Regions from separate parts of the Homo sapiens genome. Here region 1 is linked to region 2. The links come from fine-mapping of genetic effects on gene expression. A gene starts in region 2. The other region holds a variant in brackets. All regions are shown on one strand. Distances are from middle to middle.

Region 1 (5,383 bases), 89 kb before region 2:
AACTGCTGCTCCTTCAGCTGGGTGCTGAAGACCTTCACCTTCCTTCTTGGGCCATCCCTTACTTCCCATTTCAAGCCAGTAATATTAAGGAGGACATATAAGTGGCAACAGGAAAGGTAGGGGACAGTTTTGCCAATTTGCCCTCCTTCACCCCCTGCCCCACTTCAGACAGTTTCATTAGCAAGATCCCTGCTCACATTATAAGGCCCATTCTGTTCCTTACCCATGCACAGCTCAAGTTTCTGCAACAAACGCTGGCATACGTTCTGAAAAGTTTCCCATAAAACAGACACTTAACTTCAGTTGCTTTCTGAGTCTTGGTTGCCACTGCCCGACAGGAGTATTTATTCTCTGATCTCACCAGCAGGGTGCAGTAGGGAGAAAAGTTGCCCTATAATTTCTTGGAGTACAGAACACATACAGATACGGTTTGGTTCTGTACCACTGCTTACCTTTCAGGGCCCCTATGGTTTCAGTAAGCTTTGAGGGCACAAACTAAGAAGGCTAACACCAAGAGTATTGTTTGCATGGGTAAATATTACTAAAAGTCAACATACAAGTGAACTTTTAGAGCATATTTTTTATTTGGGAACTACCTGAAATACCCAGAAAACTATGCCACCACTTTAACAATCCAAGGACTTCAAATGTTTTCTAAAACTCTCTCTACCCAAGTAGACATGCAAACTTTGATCTGAATTTCCTGACATTTCCTTATTTTTCTGTTTTTGTTTTGTTTTTTTTTGAGACAGAGTCTTGCTCTGTCACCCAAGCTGGAGTGCAGAGGCGAGATCTCGGCTCACTGCAACCTCTGCCTCCTGGGTTCAAGCAATTCTCCTGCCTCAGCCTCCCTGAGTAGCTGGACACGTGCCACCATGCCCAGCTAAGTTTTGTATTTTTAGTAGAGACGGGGTTTCACCATGTTGGCCAGGCTGGTCTCATACTCCTGACATCGTGATCCACCCGCCTCGGCCTCCCAAAGTGCTGGGATTTACAGGGGTGAGCCACCACGACCGGCCTTCCTCATTTTTCTATAAATAATTTTAGATAGTAGGGTAAATGGAGTTCTTATTTCCAGGAATTTGAAAAGCTCATATTCTTTTGAGAAATGTTTTCCCAGGCAAATTTCTAATGCAGCTATTCCTCTACTTTTGAAATGTCCATCCCTCAGCTCAAAAGAAAGCACCCTGCAATTTAGATTCTTTTTTTAAAAAATTAAGTTTAAACTGGAAAGGGATAGTTTTAGCTTGTTCCACATGAAATCTTGCTGATAAGCAAATTCAACTACATTTCTATCCAAAAGAGTTCCTTTAAAAAGTCTGACTTACAGTCAGGCATGGTAGCTCATGCCTGTAATCCCAGCACTTTGGGAGGCCGATGCTGGCAGATCCCCTGAGGTCAGGAGTTCGAGACCAGCCTGGCCAACATGGTGAAACCCCATCTCTACTAAAAATTAAAAATTAGCCGGGCGTAATGGCGCACATCTGTAATCCCAGCTACTTGGGAGGCCAAGGCAGGAGAATTGCTTGAACCCAGAAGGTGGAGGTTTCAGTAAGCCGAGATCGTGCCACTGCACTCCAGCCTGGGTGACAGAACGAAACTCCGTCTCAAAAAAGAAAAAAAAAGTCTTATTTACAATAATTTCCTGTTTCCATTTCTTTATGCAAATCTCAAATAATAAACCTGCTCTTGGCAAGCTGCAGCTAATCTCCAGTTTATATTACTGTACATAGTTGTATATTTAAATTTTCTTAATATTGTGAACATTTAACATCTCAACCCTTCTGAAATGACTGATGGTGAAAGCTTCACAGAAAAGCTGGCCACGTCATGCTGTCGCCACTCAGTCCCACAACACCACACTCTCCTCCCTCCTCCTCCTGTTTCTGGCTAGACATTGCTTTCTGGACGTTTCTAAGGAAGCACAGGCCCAGCTTCTAATTCGACCAAAGGGTTTTAAAGTCTAAGTTCTAGCATTTTCTGAATGCTTCACAGTAGATGTTCCAGAAGAAATTAATGACTACAATAAGCATTCCAAATGATATTCTAAAATGAGGACTTTCTGGCTGGACACAGTGGCTCACGCCTGTAATCCCAGCACTTTGGGAGGCCGAGGCAGACAGATCACTTGAGGTCAGGAGTTGGAGACCAGCCTGGCCAACATGGTGAAACCCCGTCTCCACTAAAAATACAAAAATTAGCCGGGCATAGTGGTGCATGCCTGTAATCCCAGCTACTCAGGAGGCTGAGGCAGGAGAATCACTCGAACCCAGGAGGCAGAGGTTGCAGTGAGCCGAGATCATGCCACTGCACTGTAGCCTGGGCAATAGAGCAAGACTCCGTCTCAAAAATAAAAAATAAAATGAGTACTTTCTGTGCTCAAAACTACCAACTAAGCTAAACTATTTCATCAAAAGACCCCACTAATCAGGAAAACTGATACCAGAGATACCAAAATTGATCAGTGGAAAACAGTGGTTTATAACTCTACGTTTTGTGGAAGTGCACATTTTGATAATTCTTATTAAAAGACACTAAGATACATGAAGCATTGTGTAAGTTTGGCAGACATTAATATACTCATTTCAGAGGCAGTAAACCTATGAACCCTTAATGTTCTAGTTTGCTCTTGAAAATGATACTATTTCAAAGCTCAGTAATGTGGATAGATTTTT[A/G]TTCAGAAATCCTTTCATATTCACTAACTGCAATTAAAAGTTTAAAATTACATGGCTCTTAGGAATGACGCCAAACATGCAACATTTTAAGAGTAATATTAAACAGTAATTTTGCCCTCAGAAGTTTACTTATCAAATTATTACAACAGGAACACAAATAGACCACATATTACTCTTTAATTAGATTTGTTTTACAATATGTTCTTGTCAACGAGCTATGTCAAACTGTTTGTTTAAACCTGACAGAAAAGCATTTTCACAAAAACGTACCATGGAGAGGGAGGGGGAGGGGAAGAAGCACTTTTTCTAGAGATGGAAAATAGTTCCAGTAAAAAGTTCTTATTCCTTTCTTCTAAGGAGCTCGTTCTGAATATTTTCACTTAGTTCTACTGTTCTTTAAACAGGACTTTAAAAAGAATTTTGTATTTACAAAATTTACATTTTGTTCCTACAAAATGTAATTTTTTAATTTTGTAAAATAAAAATGTAAAATTTTAATTTTGTTCCTACATGAGAAGTGTGCGTACTTTCAATTAGTTTTCATTAATATCTTCTGAGTTTTCCTCTTAGGTGGTTGGTTTCTGGGTAAGGCAGAGTTAGGCTGGTGCACACACTATTTAGGAAGTCCTGTCTCGTGGCTGACAACATACATGTAGTGCTCAAGGAAGTGAGTTAAGGAGTGACATGGGAATCAAAATGATGCCTAGAATAGTGTAATTTGGGAAACAGCCCTAGATTTGACATTTTGGAAGTTCACTGTAAGAAGAGACCCCAAAAAGAAGGAAAAGGGAAAGGGTTCCTCAGCTAAATATCCCACTCATCCATGCCTACTCAGCGGTCACTGTGACAAGGCCATCTTAATCGGGGCCAGAGATGACACTCTCCCCCTGTAACTCAGCCTGGCTCTGTCTATTGGGATGTGCCTAAATGGGATGGGTGAGGGGGCACTAAACAGCTAACACTGGCCAGGGAATTATTAAGGAGCTAAAATGCAAGTACCTCTTGAATACCACAGCAATCTCTGTGCACAAATTTGGACTGTACTTTTTGGGAGAAGAGGTGAAAACTATTATTAACTATTCCCTTCCTTCAACCAAAAGGAAAAATACGCCTCTTTAAGGCTTCTTTTAATGATACTATAATGCTGAATTTATTTATGAAAAAGAAACAATACAGGTTGAGGTGGGAAAAGCCCCAAGGAAACGGAGTAAGTCACTGGCGGTCACAGGACTTGAATTCCCTGGGGACAGTGCTGTGGGGTCCCCTGCTCGCCATCCCAGCACCTCAGTCTGAGTATAGATAATACTGCATTTTTGTAAAGACGAAGGCATCCTGCATTTACCATCACACTCCACCTACTCTTGTCCTAGTCATCTTACATACTCTTAGTCCTTAATCTCTCCCAAAACGCTTCTCAGCGCCCATTGTTATTGTGTCATCTACAAAGCAACACATATATTAAAACTCAGATTTGTTTTTAACAAAAAAGTGCTTAAAACCACCCTAGGCAATTGTTTTTCACTTCATTTTCAACCAATAAAATCAAATTCATTTAGATCTATGAATAATACTGAAAAAATAATGCTTATTCTCTTACATTTTAAATAATGTGCCTTCATCCTCAACTTTACATTAACTGACTCATTTCAGTATCTAAATGAATTGAGCTCTCATTTGAAAAACAGAAGGTACAACTATATAGAATTTTTAGGATAAAAAATGTTCTGGATAGAAAAATCCTTTTGATGTTTCAAAATAACACAGATTCTCAGTATAGTTTTCAGTTTGGCAACTAAACCATTATTAAGTACCCAAGGTTTTTAAAAAATAACAAAAGATAATAACATGATTTTTAAATACAAAGTTATATAGGAGCAACTCATATCTGTGGATCATCCTTACACAAAGTTGTTTCTCACTAGAAAAATCCCTAAATATTTGTCATAAAATAAAAACTCCATTATCAAAAATTAGTTTAAGATAGAAATCTATGCACTTTAATGATTGCCAGAATTGCCCAGCATAGCTTCAGTAAAATAGAGAATTGTCTAGAAAATACAATCTCCAAAATGTGTGCAAGTACTGCAAACCGGACAGACCGGGGCAGGGCAAGGCCCTTGAAACCAAGTCCTCCTTGAGCACCTTTCCCAGGTTAGAAACCCCTCTTCAGCCTGTGCTTCGCACGTTTCCTTCAGCGTGCCGCCATTCAGACTGCGCCACTTACGTCCCAGTGCCACGCTGCGTGGATCAAGTGTCAACGGGAAAGTATGAGTTAGGCAAGCGCTTTTTTTTTAAGCTGTAAACGCTTCACATGACTGGCCCCGTAAGAAATTGTGGGAGCTTAGATGAGCCTGGAGCTTTTCAGGAACTGGATGAGGACTCTGTACACAAATGTGTACTGGCAGAGAGTCTGCACCAGCATCATTCTCTGTTGCCTCAGCATGTCCAGCACTCTCGGGATGTCCAGCACCTAGGTTGAGAGAAACGGTAATGAAGATAATGTGTTCCCCTGGGGAGACAGAAAGGATGGGAGGACACGAGTGTCCTGGCAGAAACCTGGTTGGGAGATGGACAGTCTCTTTTCCACCTTAGCGTCTTCTAGAAATAAGCCATGATTGCCTACTTCTGATTTTCTGATTAGTTTTAGCTATAAATAGAATGTCCATGCAGACTATTTCTTCAACATTCCCCAGGTGTAGCTCACTGAC
Region 2 (5,383 bases):
CTAAGACGAATCCCTAAACCGTCGCTGTCTTTAAAGAGATTACAACCATGCTATAATTACATACAGAGCTGTATCTCTAATAAGGACCCAACCACGGTTTTATCTGGCTAGTTTTTTTGTTTGTTTTGAGCTCTGGTTATTTCCCATAGCCAGGAAAATCAAAATATTAAAAACAAGGGATAGGGGAAGGCCAGAAGAAAAAAACAACGCTGCAACTACCTAAAGCACTGTGTTAATTAACCGCATTTGCTGAGTGCCTTCTGTAGGTAAAAGCACCATACTATGGAGGGAAACAGAAAATAAGTATTAAAAGATATGGTTTCCACTTCCAGTAGTTTTCAATGCTCTTTGCTGTTTCAGGGGTATAAACTAAATAAGTAAAGCAAGATGGAAAAAAATTAGCAAATGACAACTTTAAATAATAAGCTTTTAACTAGAAAATTGATAAACCAAGAGTAAATATTTAAGGATTATAAATATGCATACTAAACACCCTTTCATGAGATCAGATGGTGGGTTTCAATTTTACATAAAAATTATGGTAACTGGAAACCGGGCGGATTAAGTAGTGTAGATGAACAGACAAGATATTGCATATGTGTAGAGGAAAGATAAATATTTGTATTAGGTGCCATTCAAATATGGTAGTCTTTTCACTACATAGAACTATGCCTTGAAAGCAATAGATACTACACTGTATAACTTAATTATTAACTTAAGCTCTGATTAAGCAAACTCAGTAAAACTTTCAATTGTCCCTCAGACTTGAAATGTATTACTGCATCAGGGATAAAGGAAAAGTCAAAATTATCTCTTATTTTGGTAGATGAAATTGAAAAAGTTGCAGTGTGTGTGTACATGGTGCATCCCCCCAAGATCTATCCATAAGAATGGCTTGCTTTTTGCTTATTTATATAAAACCCACTATGTTAAAACAATGATTTTGTTTAATAATTTACAAATTTATCAATGATTTATACATCTTAATTTTCAGTAATATGCAGTATTTGTTGCCAAATGGTGTAATACAATTATGAATGTCTGAAGATAATAAAACCAAGATGAGTAGAAATTTAAGAGTTCTTTGGGGAGGTCTGTTTCAGGTATAAAATAATATGCAATAATATGAAAGTGATTGGGTCTGGAATTATAATTTACTAAAGTAAACATAATTTATAAATAGCTATTAAAGGAAAACTAGGATATAATTTTTTCTCTACAAAATCTTTCCGTTTTGTGGTAAGTAAACAGATACATACTAGATTCTGCTTCAGTACAAGTTTACAAAAGGCAGTCTGAACTATTTGTGAATTCATTTTAATTTTCCCTCTCTACAACCCTTTCCAAAAGTTCCTCAAATACACTTTACCTCTCAATCTTACAGCGTTTCCCCTTTCCTATTAAGGTCCTTACCACATGTAATTTTGCCAAAGTTGCTTTAAAATAAAATAAGCACTAAAAGGAGAGAGTATGTGACATTTTTAGAGTAATATCTATAGCTATAGCATTAAACCCATGTTTCTCACGGAGAAAACATCTGTGCGTAGATGCTCCAGAATAAAATGCCCTAGAAACGAAACGGACTATATTCAGAGTAAAATTACTGTCGTGTCCCAAACTTAAAAAAATAAATAAACTGTCAGCAACTATTAGGCATACAGCAGTTGTCACTTGGAGCACACGAATGTTCTGAATGTGTTTGTGAGCATACGCTATTAGTATAAGGCTTTCTCAGCAAAAAAGAAAATAGGACGAGCATGCCAAGAGCGGCCAATCTAATCAGGATTTGCAGAAATCACAAGTCGGAATTTGCAGATCCAAGAATTCTTGTTTCCAGAGTAAATACTCTACTCCAAAAACAAACCCAGGCGTTACCAAACAGTCCTTCCCTGCGCCCCTTCTCGCCAAAGTTATCTGGCGAATTTCACGTTTATATATTCTGAGAGGCACAAATATGCCTAACACATTTAAAACCCTGATCCAGAATTAACCCGCAACAATCGGCCAGGGCGTTCGGAATAGAAGTTCAAGACTCCTTTTAGAAATTACTCAAGTATATGAGAGCGAACCTGAAAAACAAGACTTTTCTCTTTGTTACGCTCCCGCTACGGGTCTGGCCGCCGCGCCCCATTCTCCGGGATTCCGGGGCCGCGGGCGCGCTCCGGGGTCCGGGCGAGTGGACACACCCCACCGCTCGGGCCAGCCGCCCGCCCCTCCCGCCGGCCGGGGACCGCGCCCTCACCTGCTCCCGCTCCCGCTCCCGCATCCTCGGGGCCGCGCGCCCCGCTCAGCGACCCGCCTCCCGGGGCCCCGCCGCGCGGCCGCCGCAGCCGCACCCGCACGCCAGCCCGGGCCGCGGCGCGCTCATGGGGCTCGCACGCCTCACTTCCTGTCTCCAAAAACCCGGCTCGCAGACCATTCCCCTGGGCAGAGTCCGGCGGTGGCGACGGCGAGGGGCGAGGCCTGGAGGTGGGACCGGCCGGCGAGGAGCGCCGCACAAAGAAGCCCCGTGGGGGCGGGGGGTGGCAGGAGGACGGACAGACCGTCGGACCGACGCGGGACGCGCGGCCGGAGCAGCGGGGCGGCCGGGCCCAGGCGTCCCTCCCCCTGAGCCGGGCGGGCGGATCCGGGGAGGCGGCGGCGGCCCGTGACCTCAGAGAGTTGGAATGCGGGCAGCCGCGCGGGGGAGGCGCGGACAGCTGCGCCCGGCCGCCGGGGAGGGGGCGCGCCGCTGCTTTTTTTAATCGTATGACCACTTATTTTAAGAGTTTCCAAATAAAGCAAGGCTTTTAATAAAATGAGTGGAGGGGGTATTATTTAGGTTCCAGATAAAGGGTTTTATTCCTGTGTTATTAGGTAGGCTGTAAAATGCTGTTATTGATGGTTATTCGTTTACTCTGGTATATTTCTGAACACTATTGGAATACATTTCTTCTTTTCCTGCTTGCTCCTAAGGTTATGCCCCATATAACTAGACACTTCCAGTACTGGGTGGGAAAGCCCCCCCACCAAAAATGGTTCATATGCCTCAAATAACCTGTCAGTCCCCAAAAGGGAGCTGTCTGCTTATGCAATATAGAGCAGAACTGTTAAGGATGGAGACTTGACAAAGTTGTCAAATCCCAGCTCCAACATTTACTAGCTGGATGACCTTGTGCAAGTTTCTTAACTTCTCTTTACCTGTTTCCTCTCCTATAAAAGAGGGATATTAATATCTTTGCACAGCAGGGGTGGGGGAAATAAATACTAAGCAATATCCAATAACTTGTGTAAAGTATATATGAAGTGTTTCGTTTAAGGTTTATTATACAGTATTCTTGTACTGCATTATTACTGTATTGCAGCACTTAAGCTGAGGAATAAAACTGTGTGACCCTACCACTATTACAATAGTGTAAGATCTTTTCTTGGCATGTGGAACACAGAACCTTTTAATTTATGTAAATTTTAATTTCAGTGATTTTGTTTTAATGCTGTTGTTTCTGGAAAGCTTTTTAAAGTATTGTTTCATGTAAATCTCATTTTCTTAAACAATTAACAAAAACTTTTGAATACTTAACTCTGCATGAGACGTGGTCCCTGCACAACACGGACTTTTGGTTTAGTGGGTGATAAACGCACCTGCACACCACACACGCAGTACAAGGCCAAAGTGGGGAGCATTGTCATAGAGGTATGAGTGCTATCCAAGAGCAAAGCCCAGCAAGGTGCATCTTGGGTCGTTTAGCTAAAGGCAAATAAGATTACCTGTGTTTCTAAGGGAAAAAAAATAGATCAATTCTGTTTGTAATTGATATTTCAACTGAACTCTATGAGGGGGTCAATTTGTGTGTGAGCAAAGAAAAGAGATCTAAAAAGAAGTCACTTTGCTGGCTTCCCAAGGTAGAAAAACTGGAATCATGTGTGACTTCTCCCATTATCATCTCCAGCCTGTCATCAAGACCTGGTATTTCCTCCTTTGAAATGTCTCATGAATTCTTTGTTTCCTTTCTGTTCCCCCTGGAACATTCTAAATCCAAACCCTCATCATTTTACATCCGGATTATTGCAACAAGGGTGGTCTCCTGGCATCTGGTTTCTCAGTTCTCTCTTATTTCCTTGCTAATACCAGGCTTCCTTCTCTTATCACTCTTAATGGACTCCCAAGGTTAAGTTCTTCTGCCTGACCTATAGGGACTTTCCAAACGGGCCTCTCTGACCACCTATATCGCTTTCTGCCCCTGTCAAGCTTTGCCCCTGGCCAGCAGCCCCTCCTGCCCTCTTTCCACTTGTCTAAGCCTTCTGCTTCTCTGCAAGTAAGACTCTGCTTCCAGGATGACTTTCTAGCCACACCATTCCACAGTGATCTCCACACTTGGCAAGAACTGTAAAAGTTGTTTCATGACGGCTTCTTTTATATCTCCTAGGATTCCTAGGACAGTACTGGGCAAAGAGTAGGCACTAAATAAAAACTTGTTAATTGAATCAGGAAGAAAATAAAAGAATTTTAAAAATAGAAAATGACCATAAAACCCAAGAGATGTTAGACAACTGAGTTGAACTTCCTCCCTCACAGTCCACAGATGTCATTTACTGACCAAGTACCTAAGCCCTATTTTCCCTCAGCTATGTTAATTTGGCAGGAACATTCATGGGAAGGCACTTGAATAACACCTTCAAAATATTAGACATAAAATTATTAGCTTGTGTTGCATATCTAAGGAAGTGAGATAATTTATATGGTGCCACCCCCAAAGATACAAAAGGGTGTAAGTAAAAAGTCCCCTTCTCACCCTGCCTGCTAGACACCCAGCTCTTCTCCTGGGAGGTAACCAGTGTTCCCTCATTCCTCTGTATCCTTACAAAGATGTTCTGCAGAGTTACAAGAAACTACATATAAGTATCTTTACCCCCTCTTGTTATCCAGAAGGTGGCATACTTACACATACTTTTACACTGGAAGTTATTTCTTACTAAAATAAATAAAATGTAAAAAGAAAGCCCAGCACATAAAATGATGAAAGACAAAAAGATGAAAGAAGGCTGGGTGCAGTAGCTTATGCCTGTAATTCCAGCACTTTGGGAAGCCTAGGAGGGCAGATCAGCTGAGGTCAGGATTTCGAGATCAGCCTAGCCAACATGAAGAAACCCCGTCTCTACTAAAAATACAAAAATTAGCTGGGCGTGGTAGAGCATGCCTGTAGTCCCAGCTACTGGGGAGGTTGAGGCATGAGAATCGCTTGAGCCCAGGAGGCACAGGTTGTGGCGAGCCAAGATCACGCCACTGCACTCCAGACTGTGTGACAGAGCAAGACTCTGTCTCAAAAAAAAAAAAAAAAAAGGAAAGGAAATTGTGGTTTGGTGGGTGCACTGACTAGTGTTTTCTTAGAAGTTCAAAAGTTAA

The links.
Region 1: its variant is fine-mapped to the expression of PTPN21 in cerebellum (GTEx, PIP 0.96). The same link has a PIP of 0.9 or more in fibroblasts.

The regions. Positions count from the first base shown.
Region 1 is chr14:88,463,121-88,468,503 of GRCh38, forward strand. PTPN21 (protein tyrosine phosphatase non-receptor type 21) reads right to left here. Exons shown (of 19, transcript NM_007039.4): 19 at 2,658-5,145. The coding sequence ends at 5,017. It also overlaps a transcript of SPATA7 not described here. Among named protein-coding and RNA genes, the nearest start is that of SPATA7, 80 kb to the left of the region's middle. The variant A/G (reference allele first, on the strand shown) is at 2,676.
Region 2 is chr14:88,552,409-88,557,791 of GRCh38, forward strand. PTPN21 (protein tyrosine phosphatase non-receptor type 21) reads right to left here and starts at 2,599. Exons shown (of 19, transcript NM_007039.4): 1 at 2,243-2,599. It overlaps LOC124903405 (proline-rich protein 2-like), which reads right to left and starts at 4,382. Exons shown (of 2, transcript XM_047432047.1): 1 at 4,355-4,382; 2 at 2,249-2,652. The coding sequence starts at 4,382. The coding sequence ends at 2,288. RefSeq lists a silencer at 2,557-2,606.